Homo sapiens: one gene and its partners. The protein of the gene in region 1 purifies or fractionates together with the protein of each later gene. This does not show direct contact. Each region holds a gene or a part of one and is shown in the gene's direction. Other genes may lie near its edges.

What was found. The genes of interacting proteins can lie anywhere in the genome.
Region 2: the proteins of ATG4B (region 1) and NUP50 purify together in Homo sapiens (affinity purification with mass spectrometry; one large-scale study listed by BioGRID and IntAct). This does not show direct contact.
Region 3: the proteins of ATG4B (region 1) and KRT4 purify together in Homo sapiens (affinity purification with mass spectrometry; one large-scale study listed by BioGRID and IntAct). This does not show direct contact.
Region 4: the proteins of ATG4B (region 1) and CCDC124 purify together in Homo sapiens (affinity purification with mass spectrometry; one large-scale study listed by BioGRID and IntAct). This does not show direct contact.

What each region holds. Positions count from the first base shown.
Region 1 is NC_000002.12:241,644,193-241,647,692, forward strand, and holds part of ATG4B (cysteine protease ATG4B), read left to right. Parts: intron 1-3,500. UniProt on the Homo sapiens protein: Cysteine protease that plays a key role in autophagy by mediating both proteolytic activation and delipidation of ATG8 family proteins. Required for canonical autophagy (macroautophagy), non-canonical autophagy as well as for mitophagy.
Region 2 is NC_000022.11:45,173,925-45,177,424, forward strand, and holds part of NUP50 (nuclear pore complex protein Nup50), read left to right. Parts: intron 1-1,969; coding exon 1,970-2,156; intron 2,157-2,317; exon of another isoform or gene 2,318-2,458; intron 2,459-3,500. UniProt on the Homo sapiens protein: Component of the nuclear pore complex that has a direct role in nuclear protein import. Actively displaces NLSs from importin-alpha, and facilitates disassembly of the importin-alpha:beta-cargo complex and importin recycling.
Region 3 is NC_000012.12:52,808,583-52,811,116, reverse strand, and holds part of KRT4 (keratin, type II cytoskeletal 4), read left to right. Parts: intron 1-300; coding exon 301-361; intron 362-1,638; coding exon 1,639-1,734; intron 1,735-2,266; coding exon 2,267-2,431; intron 2,432-2,534.
Region 4 is NC_000019.10:17,931,883-17,935,814, forward strand, and holds the start of CCDC124 (coiled-coil domain-containing protein 124), read left to right. Parts: upstream 1-1,132; 5' UTR 1,133-1,166; intron 1,167-3,213; exon of another isoform or gene 3,214-3,309; intron 3,310-3,932. UniProt on the Homo sapiens protein: Ribosome-binding protein involved in ribosome hibernation: associates with translationally inactive ribosomes and stabilizes the nonrotated conformation of the 80S ribosome, thereby promoting ribosome preservation and storage.

The sequences.
Region 1 (3,500 bases):
AAAAATTAGGCATGACGGTGCATGCCTGTAGTCCCAGCTACTCAGGAGGCTGAGGTGGGAGGATCCCTTGAGGCCGGAAGGGGGAGGTTGCAGTGAGCTGAGATCACACCACTGCACTCCAGCTTGGGTGACAGAGCCAGACCCTTGGGTGACAGAGCCAGAAGGAACGTTTGGGAATGGAATCATCGTGTTGGTCGATCTGCAGATGTTAGTGATTGTGAGCGTTAGTTTTGCACCCATTGTGGGTTCTCACCCCACTTGGAAAACTGGTGGCTGTGCCCCATTTCATGGGTGAGGAGACTGAGGCTGGAAGAAGTCCAGGCCTGTGTCTGTCCTGTAGCTATCGACCAGGCTCTCAGACTCCAGAAACAAACCTCAGTAGGAATCAGAAGTGTTGGCCGGGCGCGGTCTGCCTGTAGCTATCGAGCAGGCTGTCAGACTCCAGAACCAAACCTCAGTAGAAATCAGAAGTGTCGGCCGGTTGCGGTGGCTCATGCCTGTAATCCCAGCACTTTCGGAAGCTGATGTGGGCGGATCATCTGAGATGAGGAGTTCGAGACCAGCCTGACCAACATGGGAGAAACCCATCTCTACTAAAAATACAAAATTAGCCAGGCGTGGTGGCACACACCTGTAATCCCAGCTACTCGGGAGGCTGAGGCAGGAGAATCGCTTGAAACCGGGAGGCGGAGGTTGCAGTGAGCCGAGATCGTGCCATTGCACTCCAGCCTGGGTGACGAGCAAAACTCCATCTCAAAAAAAAAAAAAGAAAGAAATTAGAAGTGTTAATTCCAAAAAAGTTATCTTCCTCCATTATAAAGTAAGATCTGGAAGGTCAGGGAGGTCTTTGTACCGTTCTGATGCCTCAGTCCATGGCTCCTCATTGTGTCTTCCTCTTCAGCTGGAGCTGCGAGGGTGTCCAGGAGGGGTGAGTTCTGCTCGGAGGGCCTGCCGAGGGCATTCCTTCCTGTCCTCCAGCATGAGAGGGACAGTGTGGGGCCCCTAGAGTACAGGGAAGACCTCCTCATAACTGAAGAGATGCGAGTCTGAGAGTCTTTATTGGCTCTTTTGTAGGAATCGCTGCAGGTCTCTTTGGTCCTTGGAGCCAGCCCGTGAGGCCGGGGGCAGGCTCTTGCTCTCTAAATGCAGTCACTCTTGGAGGAAAGGACGTTATGTTGGATTCAGTGTTAGTAAAGAGACTCATGTTTGGTTGGGTCTCTGTTGACCTTGTACTCTGTGCTGCACCTCTGCTTACAGAATACCTCCCATCCATGCCGGTTCGTGACTGCTCACCCGTTTCAGTGATCTGAGAAGGCTGGCCCTGAAAGAGTGGTTACTGCTCCCGTGCAGTTTAGAGCTTTTCCTGCACCTTGACTTGTCCGTTTCACAGTGAGGACACCAAGTCACAAGAAGGTCACTAGCCTGTAAGGTTGCGTGACTGCTCAGTGGTGGGCTCAGACTTCTGACTCCACAGCTGGCGCTCCAGCTGTCAGGAACGTGCTCCAGGTGTGACGTGTGGACACTCCCCACTTGCAGCGTCCTCCACAGTACCGAGAGGAGGGTGCAGTGTGGTGGGAGAAGCAAGGGATCATGTTTTCAGAGTGTCCGCCACTAGCCCTAGGGGAATGTATGACTCGCTCCCAACAGAGGGCAGGATTCTCGGGGAGGGCCGGAGTGCGTTTCTCTGGACGGAGGAGCAGAGCAGCTTGGGGCACGGTGTGGGAGCCCTCCTTAGGGACCTCATGGGTCACGTTCGCCGTGGCTGCGCCACTCCTGTTCACTGCCAAGCACCGTGATTGCTCCTTGGATTTGCTCCCCTGGGGTTTCCTGGTCTCCTTGATGGTTTATACAGTGAGCAATCTGAGGCCACACACCTGTAATTTTCACAGTTATAGCTGGAGGTGTGGTGGTGTATTTGAACTTAATGGAACACCTCTTATTCCCTTCACTCTGAAGTTGGCTTCCTTGCCTATAAAGTTTGGTGATAAACCTAAGAAATACACCTGCTGTGCATTTTACTGCGTCCGTGATGAAAATCCCTCAACTTCACAGCCGCTCAGGCCTCGTGACCCTGCTTTCAGAGGGAGCCTTTTTCCTTTTCTTCCTTATCTATACTTCTCTCATTCCTTTACCATTTATATTTTTAATATGGGAAACTAGACATCCTAGAAGTTTCTCAGCTTCCAGATTCTGTTACTGCAGACTGTTACTGATTCAACAATATGGTCCTTTTCCTGATGACATACGCCACATTCTTCTGAAGTACAGATGGTCTCCAAACTACCATGGTTTGACTTACAATTTTTTGACTTTACGATAGTGTGAAAGCAGTATGCATTCTATGGAAACCATACTTGACGTTTTGAATTTTGATCTTTTTCTGGGCTAGCAGTATGCCTCCAGATACTCTCGAGATGCCAGATAGCTCCTCGTCAGCCACATCATGAGAAGGGGGAATGACCCCTGCTCTACAGGGCACTGTGTTGCCAGCTGAGTTTGCCCAACTGTAGGCTAATGTAAGTGTTCTGAGCACATTTAAGGCAGGCTAGGCTAAGCTATGATGTTAGGTAGATTACGTGTATTCAATGCTTTTTTTTTTTTTTTTTTTGAGACAGAGTTTCACTCTCCCACCTGGGCTGGAATGCAGTGGCGCGATCTCAGGTCACTGCAGCCTCCGCCTCCTGGGTTTAAGCAATTCTCCTGCCTCAGCCTCCCGAGTAGCTGGGATTACAGGCACCTGCCACCATGCCCGAGTAACTTTTTGTGTTTTTAATAGAGATGGGATTTCACCATGTTGACCAGGCTGGTCTCCAACTCCTGACCTCAGGTGATCCACCCGCCTTGGCCTCCCCAAGTGCTGGGATTACAGGCATGAGCCCCTGTGCCTGGCCTCAGTGCATTTTTGACCTAAGTATTTTCAATTTACAATGGGTTTATTGGACATAATCCCATCCTAATTAAGGAACATCTGTAGTCTACAAAGAGATACTTGCCAGTGTTCATTTAGCTCTGCTGTACTTTAAATAAAAGATATGTGTATCTTTAGTTCAAAGCTGGTGCCTTGGAACGGTGTCAAACATGAGAAGAATGTTCCAACAGCAAGATGGAATCATTGTCTTGCAGTGTTGAAATTAGACCGGTGGTGGCCAGGCGCAGTGGCTCACGCCTGTAATCCCAGCACTTTGGGAGGCCGAGGCGGGAGGATCATGAGGTCAGGAGATTGAGACCATCCTGGCTAACACAGTGAAACCCCGTCTCTACTAAAAAAAATACAAAAAATTAGCCAGGCGTGGTGGCGGGCGCTTGTAGTCCCAGCTACTCAGGAGGCTGAGGCAGGAGAATGGCATGAGCCGGGAGGCAGAGCTTGCAGTGAGCCGAGATCGCGCTACTGCACTCCAGCCTGGTGGGCGACAGAGTGAGACTCCGTCTCAAAAAAAAAAAAAAAAAAAAAGAAAAGAAATTAGACCGGTGGTGTTTTCATCCTTTTTCCTTGAGAATAA
Region 2 (3,500 bases), on another chromosome or scaffold:
ACAATTAAATGTCATGTCACCCACCAGAATGCTGAAATGCGGCTTTTCCTAAATAGTGGATTCAGTAGATCTGCTAAGCACTGGAGATGTATTGGTGAGTAAAAAAGACCAAAATCATCTTGCCCTATGGAAGAGAACAAATACATAGTATTAATTTTTCCTCTGTAAGTGCCATGGGGAACAGTAAAACCAATGAGGGAAATTGAGGGATGTGGGGCTGTGTCAGTGCCCATGGAGGAGCCCACATGGGTATTTTCCCTTTTTTTTTTTTTTTTGAGACAGGGTCTTTGTCGCCCAGGGTGGAGTGCGGTGGCACAATCTTGACTCTCTGCAACCGCCGCCTCCTGAGCTGAAGCAATCCTCCTGCCTCAGCCTCCTGAGTAGCTGGGACTACAGGCATGCGCCACCACACCCAGCTAATTTTTGCATTTTTGTAGACAGGGGGTCTCACTCTGTTGCCCAGGGTGGTTTCAAACTCCTGGGCTCAAGTGACCTGAATGTCTCGGCCTCCCAAAGTACTGGTATTATAGGCATGAGCCACCACACCTGGCCCCTTGATGAATATCTTAATCAACTTTTACTCTCATTTTTCTGAATATCTTTTTTTTGTTTAACTTGTGGTTCTTGAATTTTTGTTGTGATTCTAGAGCCAATTTACTATCAGCAATTTCTAAAATCCCTACAAGTGACTTTTAACTTTGTGCAAAATCGGAGGCTCTGAAAAGCCACTTAATGGCTTTATAGTTTGTCCATGAATCATTGTTTTAAAATGACAGCTATCAGTGTGGCGGGTTTGGAATTTTAAATGATGAAAAATCAAATGTAGAGCAACAGAATCTAAGCTCTGTTTATTATGTGCATTAAAACTCATACAAGTTACAATTTTCCATTCTTTGCCTCATTTTATTGCCTTAAATATATCAGTGGTCAGTAAACATCTGAAATTCTGTAGATGAGATTGAAACTTTGGTTTTGGAAAAACATGCAGTAATATTTAGGCTGACTGGCCCATTTAGTAAATGAAGGGGTTCCAGTTTAATTTTTTTTTTTTTCTGGTGAAATCATGGTTATAATTCACTCATGTGGAAACTTAAGATTTGTGAACTGTCTCTTAGATGTTCGGTCTAAGAAGCAGATCACTTCCTATAATGTAATCACTTCTTCGAACAACAACAAAAAAGGGCTTCTAAAAATTGTGGTGAGTTTATTTAGCAAAGCACTATAAACCGAGGAACCTTTCTCCAAAAGTTCCAGGGGCAGAGAGGAGCTTTAGAATTCATACGGAATGCCACACATTTCCAGAGCATCTTAGGTTAGAGATGTGAGCAGGCTAGCACAAAGGGAAAAGGCCTACTAGAAAAACCTTGTTAAAACAATCGAGTTTAAGGAAGCAGTGAGGAAAAGGAGAGTAAGAAGTTGTCCCGGGTTGTTCAGCTAACAGGAACATGTAGATTTGAGACTCGATCATCTAAGTTTTTGTAGGCTGAAAGCAGTTGCAAGCCACAGATGTTAAGAAATTAGGCAAATGGATATTTTTAGTTAACCTACCTTGATGTTTTTATCATTTCTTTAGGCAGTAAATGGTCTTTGACTGAGTAGTACATGAAGTATCTTTCATTTGGGATTTAGTTTTATTGAGCCGCTTCAGTAATTCTGAGGCTGGGTGGTGGGTACATAGGTTTATTGCATTAGTCTTTCTTACCTTTTATGTCCTAAAAATACACATAATATATTTTTTAAATGTCCTTCCTGCCTGTTTCAGGAAAGCAGCTTTGGGTTGCAAAGCTGTTCTTATGAATACAATCTTCCCATCTCATTTCTTATTTCTGCTTGTGCCAGCAGTTTGCCTTATAACGCTGACTGCATGTGGAGTCTAGGTGCTGTTTAGCCAAGATGCTGTTGTCACTCACTTGCTTTTTGGTAATAGAAAGTACACTTACCTAATGTGTGCTCCTCCTTCATACTTCAGTCTGACACTGGAGGAGCCTTTAAAGGTTTTAAAGGTTTGGTGGTACCTTCTGGAGGAGGACGCTTTTCTGGATTTGGTAGTGGCGCTGGAGGGAAGCCTTTGGAAGGACTGTCGAATGGAAACAACATAACCAGTGCCCCTCCCTTCGCCAGTGCAAAGGCAGCGGCAGATCCCAAGGTAGCCTTTGGTAAGTAGCTCCCATCCCCCAGCCGCCTGTGTAAGTATCATCTATGGAAAATAGCTTTACAAAGATGTTTTTCTTATAGCTACCCTGTGTCTTGGAACTGTGTGAGCAAAACCAGGGTGATAATGAAAGAGATGGAACTTAGGGAGGTGTCGGTTACTTACAGAGTAAGTGGGTAGAGCACAGGCTTTTGATCCAAAACATCTCAGCTTTGTTCTCAGCTCTGCTGGCTACCAGTTGTGTGACCCTGGCCTCTAGGCCTCAGAATGTTCAATTTTGAAAGGAGAGTGGCCCTCAGAATTGACCTAGAGTCGAGAGAGAAAAGAAAATGCTATGTAGACCCTTTGTGTGCCAAGGGCTTTCTGTGTGCCTCGCACCAAACTGGCTACTGGGAACTCAGATGCGGTTCTCCGTGGCCAGGGTGCCTCCCACGCTAGGTTTGTTTGGGTATGGGATGTGTTGATTGCCTGATCCTGTTTTGAGGGAGTCAGTCAAAAACTCTTGGAATTAGCAACAGAGAATAGGATCACGGGTTAAAAGCTTGGAAATGATCCTGACTGGTTGGGTTGTATTTAGCTGATTATTCTGAGAGTATATACTGTTTGATTTTAATTTGGCAGAATGTTTAGTGTGATGTAAAATAAGTGTTCTCTGTTAAGTTTTGTTGTTGTTGTTGTTTTTTCTAAGTTGGAGTCTTGCTCTGTCACCAGGATGGAATGCAGTGGCGCGACCTCTGCTCACTGCAGCCTCCGCCTCTGGGTTTAAGCGATTCTCCTGCCTCAGCCTCCCGAGTAGCTGGGACTACAGGCATGCACCACCATGCCCAGCTAATTTTTGTAATTTTAGTAGAGACGGGGTTTCACCATGTTGGCCAGGATGGTCTTGATCTCTTGACCTTGTGATCCACCTGCCTTGGCCTCCCAAAGTGCTGGGATTACATCCGCGAGCCACTGTGCCCGGCCTCTGTTAAGATTTTTAACTACAGCCATCCCCTAGTATCCTGGGGATTGGTTTCAGCACCCCCTTGGATGTTCAAGTCCCATAGTCAGACCAGCATAACTCTTAGATAGGAAAAGTGAGTGTTCGTATCCACTGGTTTCTCATCCCCAGAGTACTGCATTGAGACAGGGTCTCGCTCTGTCACCTAGGCTGGAGTGTATTGGTGTGGTCTTGGCTCACTGCAGCCACAACCTCCCGAGCTCAAGTGATCCTCCCCCATCAGCCTCCCCAGTAGCTGGGATTATAGGTACACACCACCACACTCAGCTAATTTTTACATTTTTTGTAGAGATGGGGTTTTGCCATGTTGCCCAGGCTGGTCTCAAACTCCTGAGCTCAAGCGATTTG
Region 3 (2,534 bases), on another chromosome or scaffold:
GGCCAAAAGGACAGCCCTTTCAGGGACATTAAATCAACTACATCATTGCTGGGTTTTCTATCGAAAACAGTCTCTTTAAAGTTTGGTTTTCATGTATCTGAATAAACCCTGGCCTAAACGGGTACTTCCTATATTCAATGAATATAGGTTAAATGAATATCTGTATGAATATGGGAAATGCAACTAATTACGTGGATATTTCCAAATTTGTTTGGAAATGCTTGAAAACAAGCAGCAGAGATCTGAGAAACACCAGCTCACTGTGGGTTTTTGTCTTTTTCTCCCCGTGCCCACCCCCAGGTATGAAGAGGAGATCAACAAACGCACAGCAGCCGAGAATGACTTTGTGGTCCTAAAGAAGGTAAGAGACGAAGGATGGTAGGGAGTGCCTTCAGGGTGCCCCTTCCCTTGGGGAGTGGTCTTTGGCTGAAGTCATGGGTTTGGTCCATCTCTGCCTCATCCCTGCTTCACTTGGAACTATCTAGATCTATATAGTCAAGGAAAGTGGGTAACCAAACCAGGTTCTAAGAAATTAAGGTTGGGAGGAAAGCCTATTTGCTTTTTTTTTTGAGATGGAGCTTCACTCTTTTTGCCCAGGCTGCAGTGCAATGGCGCGATCTTGGGTCACTGCAAGCTCCACCTACTGGGTTCAAGCGATTCTCCTGCCTCAGCCTCCCGAGTAGCTGGGATTACAGGCATGCACCACCACGCCTGGCTAATTTTGTATTTTTAGTAGAGACAGGGTTTTTCCATGTTGGTCAGGCTGGTCTCAAACTCCTGACCTCAGGTCATCCGCCTGCCTCAGCCTCCCAAAGTGCTGGGGTTACAGTTGTGAGCCACCGCACCCAGCTGATTTTTATTTTTATAAATTCATGGGGTACAAGTGTAATTTTGTTACGTGGATAGTTTGTGTTGTGGTGAAGTCAGGGCTTTTAGAGTATCCATTGCTGGGATAACATACATTATATCCAATAAGTAATTTCTCATTATCCAGCCCCTCCCAGCCCTCCCTTTTTCAAGTCTCCATTGTCTATCATTCCATGCTCTATGTCCACATGTACACATGATTTAGCTCCCACTTATAAGTGAGGACATGTGTTATTTGTCTTTCTGTGCCTGAGTTGTTTCACTTAAGATAATGGCCTCCAGTTCCATCCACATTGCTGCAAAAAGACATAATTTCATTCTCTTTTTATGGCTGAGTAGTATTCTATTGTGTATATGTATCATATTTTCTTTATCCAATCATCTGTTGATGGACACTTAGGTTGATTTGGTATCTTTGCTATTGTGAATTGTGCTGCGATAAACATGAGTGCAGGTATCCTTTTGTTACAATGATTTCTTTTCCTTTGAGTGGAATTCCAGCACTGGGATTGCTGGATCCAATGGTAGTTCTATTTTTAGTTCTTTGAGAGATCTCCATACTGTTAGAATAGCCTATTTGGATAATCAACTTCCATGTCTTCAGGTGGCTCTAGGGAAGAATATATAAAATAATTGGTCTCCCACCAGCTCCCCTGCTGCTGAGTAGTCTTTCCTAAATGCTGCTGAGAACACCTGTCGGTGTCACTTAGTAACCCGTCCTCCTACTGGCATTCCTGCTCCTCATCTCTTATCCTCCTTACTCCTCTGCAGGACGTGGATGCTGCCTACCTGAACAAGGTGGAGTTGGAGGCCAAGGTGGACAGTCTTAATGACGAGATCAACTTCCTGAAGGTCCTCTATGATGCGGTGAGGGCTCCATCCTCCCCTCCATCCAGGGAAAGGGAATCCCCCATCTGTGACGCTGCTGGTTGGGATTCACAGTTTTTTGAAAGGACTCCAGCTCCCTTATTTTAGGGCAGTGGGTTCTCATCAAGGTCATGCATAGAAAGGTTTGAAGTGGGAAATTCAACTGGGAGATTCTTAGAACCAGATGTGGTCTTGGTCTTAGACGGGGTGATTAGATCTAAAGAGTGCTTGGAATAGAATTCATTGCTGTCTAGCATTTTTTTTCTGGTGAAATGGATCCATTCCCTTCCCTTCCATTCCAACACACCGGCACTCACTGCATTAGAGTGGCTTATGGTTCCTGGGGACCAGTAAAGACTAGAAGCATTGCTCTTCCATCCTGAACTGTCACAACCACTTGATTTCTCCTTAGAACTTTACCTGTCTCTCCCCTTCCTACACATTGTGAATGCCAGCTCTGCTCCTACTTGAGCCTGTATCAGGTCAGTGAAGGCTTTCCTGGGGGGGCTGATGTGAGACATTTGCCCTGCAGGAGCTGTCCCAGATGCAGACCCATGTCAGCGACACGTCCGTGGTCCTTTCCATGGACAACAACCGCAACCTGGACCTGGACAGCATTATTGCCGAGGTCCGTGCCCAGTACGAGGAGATTGCCCAGAGGAGCAAGGCTGAGGCTGAAGCCCTGTACCAGACCAAGGTGGGTGGTATGGATCTCTCAGGAGATGGGGCTGGCTCTGGGGCTCTGCTTTTGATGTCTGTGAACAGGTGATCATTAGCTCAAGCCCAATAGAAGTCAGATA
Region 4 (3,932 bases), on another chromosome or scaffold:
AATTCCTGGGGGAACTCCCTGAGGCAAGACTGCGCCTGGCAATTTGTAAGAAGGGGGCTGGTGCGACCTGAGCAGAGAGCTAATGGGAGGGTGAGGGAAGCCAAGGGAGATGGGGTGGGAGGTGGGAGGAGTCTTGCGGGACAATGGGAACCCAGGGGAGGCGTTAGAGCAGGGGAGGTGCATCGCGCACTGGGATTTAGGTCCCAGCAAGGTCGCTGGGGGGATGCCTTTTAGGGAATGGACTCTGTGGTCAACTACTCCTACCTGAACTGCCCCCAAAGCATTTGCTTTTCCCTCTCCACAGTCAGGACCAGTGTAACCTTAGACCCCTAATACTGCCATTTTTACTGTTGAGAACACCGAGAAGTAGTAAATGCAGAAAATCTAAAGTATAGTGCCTAAGACAAATTGGCGCCTCAAACCTAATTTCTAAATAAAATTAATAAATAATATTGCAGAAGTGGGGAGCAGGTCAGCAATCCAGGAAGAGGCACTGGCAGGAGCAAGAGACGGAATTTGAGCCTACTCGCGGTTATGAGCCTACTCGCGGTTACATTTTGGCCAAACTCAATTCCTGGTCTCTCTGAGCCTCGGTTTCCCTACCTGGACTGCGCGGTGTGTGTTAATTTCTCTGCCCCATTTATCTCCCCTCTCCTAGCCCCGCCCCAGCGTCACCAGTGGGACGCAGAGACTCAGGACTAGGAAAGCACTTTTAAAGCGTTAAGGGATTGCGAAGAGCTACGGAGAGGCTTCCTCAGGGCTATACTGGGTCCACCTCCCCTCATGGACCGCGGGCGCGCTCTGGCGGCCGGGCCGCTCCAGGCTGAAGCCGCCGGACCACGTGTGTAGTCGCAGCTGCCATCTTTCATCCGGGCATCGGCCATCTTGGTAAAGGCAATGTTCTAGATTTTCGCCTCTGCCCGCCCCTCCTGGTTCATCAACATATTAAATGAGCGTAGGGAATGAGGGCGTATTAAGTGTCCTCTTTTTGAAGAGACAAAGAAGTGGCTGACTACCCTGGCTTGGGTCCGAGGCCCAGCCATCTTTTTCTTTACCAAAATGGCGGCGGTACTGAGGCGCAATGAGTGCGCGCCGCCAGGAGCTCAGCGCGCAGGCCCCATGATGACGTCACGGAGGCGCGACCGGGCCGGCGCTGGGGTAAGAAGGTAGGAGCGTCTGCGGCGCGGGCGGAACCCGGGTTCGGGGAGCAGAGGCGCGGGGCGGGGGCTGCTTGGCCTGGGACCATCCCCTGGGAAGGCTGGAGGAGGGGTGCTGGGAGGCAGGAGCACTTCTGGCGTCCAGTCTGAACCGCACCTAGTTGGGGGCGATGCCCATTTCCAGACTAGACGATTGAAGCCCGACGCGACAGCATGTTCGAGGCCACCTGGCCCCGGACTGCCCCTAGGCAGCTTCTGGTCTCGAGAGGGACAGAGTTGGGCGCGGACTCCCCCGGCCTCTTGTAGGGGGATTAGTGGTGGGGGACTTCAAAAGGGATAGCCGGGAGGGCTGCTTAGAGGAGGCATTGTTGAATTTTGTATTCTGTTATTTTACCTTCACATCCGTGGGGTCTTAATCCCCATGGGTCTTGATTCGCTTCTAAGTGTGCCCCTCGCCCAGCCTGAGCCACTCCCTGGGTACCGCCTGGGCTCCCAGCTCCTGCCATCTGGGGAGTCCACCTCCTCACTAACCCCAGAGGGCTTGTGTGACCCATAGATTGGGCTTCCCGGCTCTAACGCCCTCCACACCTTCCCATCTCCCTGGAATACAAATCGCCCCCTTTTCCAGCCTACCTCCTGCATCCCGCGTGCAGGCTGCGCTCTCCCCCACTCATTCAGACTTTTCCTTAGATGTCTCCTTTAGGAAGCCCTTTGACCCAGGCTGGGTCAGAAGCCCTCTCCGGGCTTCCCCGGCGCCCTGCGTGTCCTTATTAGGACTCTGATTGCATGTGTTGGCTCTTCTCTGGGAGTCCCATGCAGGCAGAAAGCTCATTTGTGCCACCTCTTTCCCCAGCATCGCACACGTATTAGGTGCCCAGTACATATTTATTGAATGACGTGTGCAAGTGAGTGAGTGTTTACTACACAGAGAAAAGTGTCTGTATTTCCAGCTTGGGCTGTCATAACTAATACCACAGACTGGGTGGCTTAAACAGCAGAAATTGCCAGGCACTGTGGCTCACACCTGTAATCCAGGCACTTTGAGAGGCCGAGGCAAGCGGATCACTTGAGGTCAAGAGTTTGAGACCAGCCTGGCCAACATAGTGAAACCCCGTCTCTACTAAAAATACAAAAATCAGATAGGCATGGTGGCACATGCCAACATGGTGAAACCCCATCTCTATAAAAATACAAAAATTAGCCGGGCGTGGTGGCAGGTGCCTGTAATCCTAGCTGCTTGGGAGGCTGAAACAGGAGAATTGCTTGAACCGGGTGGGTGGAGGTTGCAGTGAGCCGAGATTGTGCCACTGCATTCCAGCCTGGGTGAAAGAGCAAAACTCCGTCTCAAAACAAAAAAAAGCCCCAACGTGGAAACAGCCCAAATGTCTAGCTGTGGACAATGGATAAACAAAATGTGGCGTATCCATGCAGTGGAGGAATATTCAGCCATAAAAAGGAACGAAGGGCCAGGCGCAGTGGCTCAGGCCTGTAATCCCAGCACTTTGGAAGGCCGAGGCGGGAGGATCACTTGAGCCCAGGAGTTCAAGGCCAGCCTGGGCAACATAGTCAGACCCTGCCTTAAAAAAAAAAAAAAAAAGCTAGGCATGGTGGCCTGCACCTATAGTCCCAGCTACTTAGGAGGCTCAGGTGGGAGGATCACTTGAGCCCAGGAGGTCAAGGCTGCAGTAAGCCGAGATTTCGCCACTGCACTCCAGCCTGGGCGACAGAGTGAGACCCTGTCTCCAAAATAAATAAATAAATGTACTCTCACACTGTGTGGCCTTTTGTGTCTGGCTTCTTTCACTTAGTATTGTGTTGTTGAGGTTCAACCACATTGTATCATGTATGTATTGGTGCCTTGTTTCCTTGTTTCCTTTTTTTTTTTTTCTTTTAAGAGACAGGGTCTTGTTCTGTTGCCCAGGCTGGAGTGCAGTGGCACAATCATAGCTCACTGTGGCCTCAGCCTCCTACGCTCAGGCGATCCTTCCACCTCAGCCTCCTAAGTAGCTGGAACTACAGGCACAAGCCACTGTGCCTAATTATTTTTTATTTTGTAGAGACGGACTCTTGCTATGTTGCCCAGGCTGGTCTTGAACTCCTGGCCTCAAGCAATCCTCCTGCCTCAGCCTCCCAAAGCACGGGGATTACAAACGTGAGTGATCGCACCCGGCCTGTGATTCCATTGATATGGACTGAAATGTCCAGAACAGGGAAAGCCACAGAGACAGAAAGCAGATTGATGGTTACCAGGGGCTAGGGGAAGAGGAATAGGGAGTGACTGCTGATGGTGATGTGGCCTCTTTTGGGGGGTGCAAGTGTTCTGGAACTAGACAGAGGTGGTATTTGCACAACGCTGTGAATATACTTAAACACTGAATTGTACACCTTTTTTTTTTTTTGAGATGGAGTCTCGCTCTGTCGCCTAGGCTGGAGTGCAGTGGTGTGATCTCAGCTCATTGCAACCTCCGCCTCCCGGGTTCAAGTGATTCTCCTGCCTCAGCCTCCCGAGTAGCTGGGATTATAGGCATGTGCCACCACACCCAGCTTTTTGGTTTTTTTTGAGAGTGAGTCTCACTCTGCCGCCTAGGCTGGAGTGCAGTTGCACGATCTCGGCTCACTGCAACCTCTGCCTCCCAGGTTCAAGCGGCTTTCCTGCCTCAGCCTCCTGAGTAGCTGGGATTAAAGGTGTCCGCCACCACACCCAGCAATTTTTATTTATTTTTAGTTGACACGGGGTTTCACCATGTTGACTAGACTGGTTTTGAACTCCTGACC